2 separate regions of the Homo sapiens genome follow, and region 2 is linked to region 1. The links come from fine-mapping of genetic effects on gene expression. A gene starts in region 1. The other region holds a variant in brackets. All regions are shown on one strand. Distances are between the middles of the regions. Region 1 holds the start of LINC02552 (long intergenic non-protein coding RNA 2552). Region 2 overlaps PDGFD (platelet derived growth factor D).

Region 1 (2,929 bases):
AGGCTGCTACCTAAAAATGATGGTATGGCATGTGTTCAAACATGACATCCATTTCATTTTACAATTTTATCTTTTTATATAGCAGGTAGATTTCTGGCTATCCTACACAATATAATTTTTTGTTTCCAAGAAGACCAGATGAGGTAGGCATCTGTATTAGAAATACGCTAGACCTCCCTATCAGAATCTACCTGTCCAGAAATAGTATTATTTATTGTATCCCTTTTTGATCCTTGTTACCAGCCTCAAAGTAGCAAGGCTTCTTCAAAGAAGCTTAGCTTTGATCGTGACCAGAGCCAGGTTGACAGGTGAGATGTTAAAGTTTGTTTTGCCCCAACATGATCTTGTCATGACCCATTTTGGTGCCATGCAGCTGAAGGTATGTTTTGGTTGAGGATTCTAACTATTCTAACTTCCAGTGAATTCATGCACAGCTGGATCTTGTTGGGAAAAAGAATCATCTTTCAACCCTTCAATGGTATTTCCTACTTACCATTTCATTTAACATTTATCAGAGTGCCACCTTTGTAGTAAAATGCTGAAGTGAAAATTCTTATGTTTAATAGCAGGGAAAAGTGAAAATGATTGTATCTGATTGAATCTGTACTTGCAGTGAACAGTTTAAATTTAAATTGGGAAGGTGCCAGAGGCCTATTGGCTTCCTTCCGTAATTGTCAAGTTCCATGGAATGGAGGAAGTTATTTTAATTCCAAGTAACAAGAATAATTTTGCATCCTGAGATCCAGTGCTGCTACTTAAAACCAAAATACACCAACATTTTATGGCACAGAAATACAGAAGATCCTTCTTGCCAAATGCCTCTGTGTTTATTTACTTCAAGTCCCAGAAGAACAACCCAGATCAATTTTGCCACTGACATTATAAATAGCATAGCAAATTCATAAGGAGTCTTTTCTTCAAAGAACGGAAACTAATCTGAAGTCTGATTAAACTCACAGGGTCCTTGTGAGGGAGATGGGAAGAGGCAGAGTATTTTGTCTAATTTCAAGTTCAAGAAAGCAAAGAACACAAAAGTTAAGTGGCTGGTGTCCATTTACTCAAGTAAATGTATTCAGGAGTTGAGCCAGAAATAAAGATCAAGTCTTCTGGCCCATGCACTAGGCCCCATGCTGCCTCACAGCTTTCAAAACCTTCATTTTCTTGGGAAATGCTAAAAAGCTTTCCCCTACCATACATACTAGATTCAGACACACTGCCATCTACTGACCCACCAAAGGATGTGCCAGCACAAGACATCCTGACCTTCAAGGGAGGGAGGAACACCTTGAGAGGAGTTGAGATCCTGCTTTCTCTTCAGAATGCCATCTCTAGGATGCCAATGGGCTGTGTCTACAGTACTATGTAGGAAAGTGCTGCAAGAGGTAAGTGAATTTAGAATATTTCCTCCCCGATGAAGGGATTAGTATTCTGGCACTATTAATATTTATATAACGATGTCACAATGCACCATGTTGTCTATATGTGGGATATCCTTGAAATAACCCCTTCCTCTCGTACTCTTATTTTGACATATTCGTCTAGGGATTTGAATAGTATAAGACAGCCTTTCTTTTTCACATAAAACAGTTTGAGGAATGCCATACGATTTTTGTGTTGTCTATTTTGTCTTTCACTGGTGTCCTATAAGATGTGCTAGTTATCCTACATGATGCCAAGAAAGGCATAATAGAAACCAAGCTAAATAGCCACAGTCCTGTGCTTGTAGAAAATATCATAAAATGTCCTAAAAGAGCTCTAACAATAGGAGAACTAGGCTCCTAACTATAATTTCAGCAATATTCTTTTTCGTTCAGAGCCAAGGTATTTTTTTCCCAGAAAAAATATCAGTGTCTTTCTTGCCACATCAACCCTTTAGAGGTTGCCTACATTCTTCCTAGAATAAAAGTAACATTTTAAAGACTTCATCAAGCGATGATGAATACAATTACTGTTTTTATTCCATTTTTACAGCCAAAAATTAAAGTTATGATGTTTGTCTATTGCTTGTGATTGTACTTAGTCCATTGCCTCTAAGAAAGAAGTTGAATTTAAGTATGTGGACCATATATTTCTTTTTTGATGAGTGTAAATGGATAAAATTAATATCTTAATATATAATCAGTGTCTATAAAAGAATCCACGTAGTAGCAGAGAAGCATTTGTGCCATGCTGGTTACTTGTCTTCATTTGCTTTGAGATCTCAAGAAAAGTTTATTTCCCAGGATGGTGGTTCACAGGCATTGTGGTTGAGGACTATACATAGAAAACTAATTGTGAAAATAGAACTTATTCCTATTCTTTCAGGATATGAAATCTTATGTTCATGACAATTTAATTGTTTTTATAAAATAATTGGTTTGGCATTACAGTTAGTAAAGCAGAACTTATCCTTTGAAGTTTACAGCTTGGAACTCAATCTGAAGAAGACCACTGATTTAATTTGGAATAAATGTCTATATGTGTCCAACCAAATCTTTACAGAAATATCTTAAGTCTTCTTAGGCAGAAATAAGAAACTGTTGTTTCCAAATTTTTTAAATGTCAAGAGGGTCTCTAAAATTATGACAGAGATGAGGGATACAAGGAGAGATACATAAAGAATGGAAACATCTGGGAGTTTTACTGACTCAGTGAAACTAGGGCATTGTGAAAACCTAATTGAAAAATCTACAGAGAGAAAAGTCCAGTTCACAAATCTGGCCCTCACATGTTCAGTCCTTAGTAAAGGCTTATTAGATATTGCAAGATGAGAGTGAGGTCCAGGAATGGTTAAATGAAAAATGAGAAAATAAAAGGTTATGAGGAGAGCAGGAAGGAATAATAATAGGAGGGTGCCAAGGCATTTGAACATCTTTGTTATGAGCTTGGACAAGATGCTAGACATTTAGAAAGCTTACCTGAGTTAAACTGAACTACCAAACTTATTGAG
Region 2 (2,929 bases), 590 kb after region 1:
GTTAATAGATCTAAGTAAAGAGGGTACCTTAGTCCGCTCAAGCTGCCATAATAAAATACCGCACACCAGGTGGCTTAAGCAACAGAAATTTATTTCTCACATTTCTACAGGCTGGGAAGTTCAAAATCAGGACACCAGCACATTGGGTGTCTGGTAAAGCCTGTTACCTGATGTATAGATGGCACCTTCTCTCTATGTCCTCACATGGTAGACAGTTTAGGAATCTCTCTGGAGCCTGTTTTATAAATCCGTAATCTCATTCATGAGGGCTCTGCCTTGTGATCTAATCACTCCCAAAAGGCCTCACCTCCTAATACCATCACCTCGAGGGTTAGAATTTCAACATGTGAATTTGGAGGGGACACAAACATTCAGACTATAGCAGAGAAATATTTCATGGCTGAAAAAGTCAGAGATTTCTTCCCAAAACCTGCTTCAAGGTGACCAACATTTCTTAAATAGTGCTACATGGCAAATTGTGGAAAAAAAGATTTTTCTGCCAATCCCACCTTTACACCAAACAGATTATAACCACCTTGTTCAGAGCAACAACCGTGTAGTATTAATGTTTTCATTCGAACAGTGGCCATGGTGCCCTTTCCGTGTTAAAGTAGCATTCGTACACTCAGGAAATATCGGTTGAATGCATATTTCAAGGGCCTTTTAAAGCTTGATATAAACACAGACATACCCAGTAGTTGCTAATTACTGCTCATTGTTTGCCACTCCAACTTCTCTCTTGCCCCTTATTTCTTACTTTTACCCTGATGGGTGGACATGGGCCTCAGCTCGGGGAGAACTTTGTGTGGGTCCAAGCCAGTCTTGGTAAGTCTGTTCCCCTTGCCATGACTGGCATAGGCCTGAGAATATGCCCAGATTCTGCCCAGTGAGACAGAGGGAAAGCTTGCTTGGGGATTTGAGAAAGGCTCCGCTTTCTTAAAAAGATATTTAGAAATATGTCAAGAAAGGCCTTTTCTTTGGCCTTGAATCCAACCCTGCGAGGGAGAGATAGCTGAAACTGCTGTCACATTTTAAGGAGAGCAGCCAACACATTCAGGATGGCAGAACAGAAAGGTGGAAAAACCCATGACTACCATGCAAAGCCATGAATTAATCAAACCTGAAAGTATCTACCTCCTGACTTCCTGTGAGAGATGACACCTTTTCCTTATTGTCTCAGTCAATTTTAGTTTGGTCATCTGTAAAATTTGCAGCCAAAATTAGCTTTTATAAGACCAGCAGATTCATTAAGCATGTGATACTGTGCAAATAAAAAGACCTCTGCCTATGTGTAAAATTTCAGAGGGATTCATTCAACAAGTAGATTTTGAGAGCTTACTACTATTTAAAATTTATTAATTGTGAGAATGTGTTTCTGTTGGGGTTTTGGACTCTGTAGCACAAACATGAAATTGATAGTAAAAACCAGCTGTCATTCAATGTTGTTT[C/T]CACGTGAGCTCTTTATATGCATGAAGGGACTGTCTGTGTCTCTGTTTTTAACCAAAAATGAAAATAGAAATGGAAAATGGGTGAATGGCTAAATTGGACAACCATGCAAAACTCTCACATGATATTGTAACTTTGTGAAATATGCCATTCTGGAGTTCAGTGCATACTAATACTCTAGTGCTTTTTAATTTATTCAGTTTTCAACTTATTAAAACCCATTTCATTCAGTACATAGTTACTAGATCTAATGTAAAGACATATGTAGGCTAGAAAATCATGCTTTTGAATGTACTGTTTTCTTTAAGGATAAAGTTAAATAGATGATTTTCCTATGTGCACATTTGCTTTAAAATCATTTTTTGTATTCCAGATGCAAAGGTAATGCTGTGTTTATTTTTCTTTTTTCTTCTGAAATACCAAGAAAGATGACCTGTAGTTCTTCTTGCCTCTAAAATTGGTCTTTTTTCTCAGATTAATTTAAAATGTAGCTTCGTTCACACCTGAGACCCCTTGAGAATAAACAAAATCTGCATTTCTTTTTCAAGCAGTACCCTGTCAATCTAAGAAGAAAAGAGAATCTTGTTTCAATTGCTGGCTTCTCATAGCATGTCATTTGTAGCAATCTCACAGAAGATTACTAACTCTAGCTAAATTTGAAACTTAGATTTTTATTGAGTGTGCTTCAGAATAAAATCTAGTAAGATTTAAAAGCAAGTATTCTTGGTTTATGAATTAATTTTTTTAAGTAGCACATTAAGAGTTTGGAGGAAGCGATTCACCAGCAATATCTTTGAAGCCTTCAAATGACGGGAATAGTAAGTTCTATCTTTTCCTTTGCAAAAATAACAGCAACAGAGGAATTGAGAACTTGACCATTCTGCCTAGTGGGATCATACTTAGGATGAAAGCATGAATTTATTCACCATCTAAATGCAGCTCCTAATTCCCAACAGGCACTCTGTAAAATCTCAATAAATGCTGATAGAGTGAGGAATTACTTTGGGTCTTGTCCCAGAATATAACTTCAAATTTCTTTTCTGCTGATCATGTGAGAGACTATTTGATTATTATTAATATATGGGCTCCCAGGGAAGCCAGACAGATGCCAGTATATTGTTAGTCATTTTTTCCATAAAGCTCACCAATTTTGTAGCATAAACCACAGTAGACCTCGAAGATGCCTATTTGGCTTCACAAATTGGTTGCTTTTAGCAATGTAGGCACACACAATCCCATCTTTCTCAGGATGTATTAAATGCTAGTATGTATTATTCTTTATTAAAGGCTACTTCTAACTCATCTGAAAAAAAGATTCTAGATTACCGTAGGAGGTCCCACAAGAAAGCATGTTTATCTTTTGTTTGTTTGTTTGTTTGTCTGTTTGGAGAGAGGATCTCACTCTGTCATTCAAGCTAGAGTGCAGTGGTGTAGTCATAGCTCACTATAGCCTCAAACTCCTGAGCTTAAGCAGTCCTCCAGC

Evidence for each region. PIP is the estimated chance that this variant, and not a neighbour inherited with it, causes the effect.
Region 2: its variant is the best candidate, but not a certain one, in a credible set for the expression of LINC02552 in substantia nigra (GTEx, PIP 0.56).

The regions. Positions count from the first base shown.
Region 1 is chr11:104,607,690-104,610,618 of GRCh38, reverse strand. It overlaps LINC02552 (long intergenic non-protein coding RNA 2552), which reads left to right and starts at 1,317. Exons shown (of 4, transcript NR_120585.1): 1 at 1,317-1,382.
Region 2 is chr11:104,014,400-104,017,328 of GRCh38, reverse strand. All of the region lies in intron 1 of PDGFD (platelet derived growth factor D), which reads left to right. Among named protein-coding and RNA genes, the nearest start is that of DDI1, 21 kb to the left of the region's middle. The variant C/T (reference allele first, on the strand shown) is at 1,449.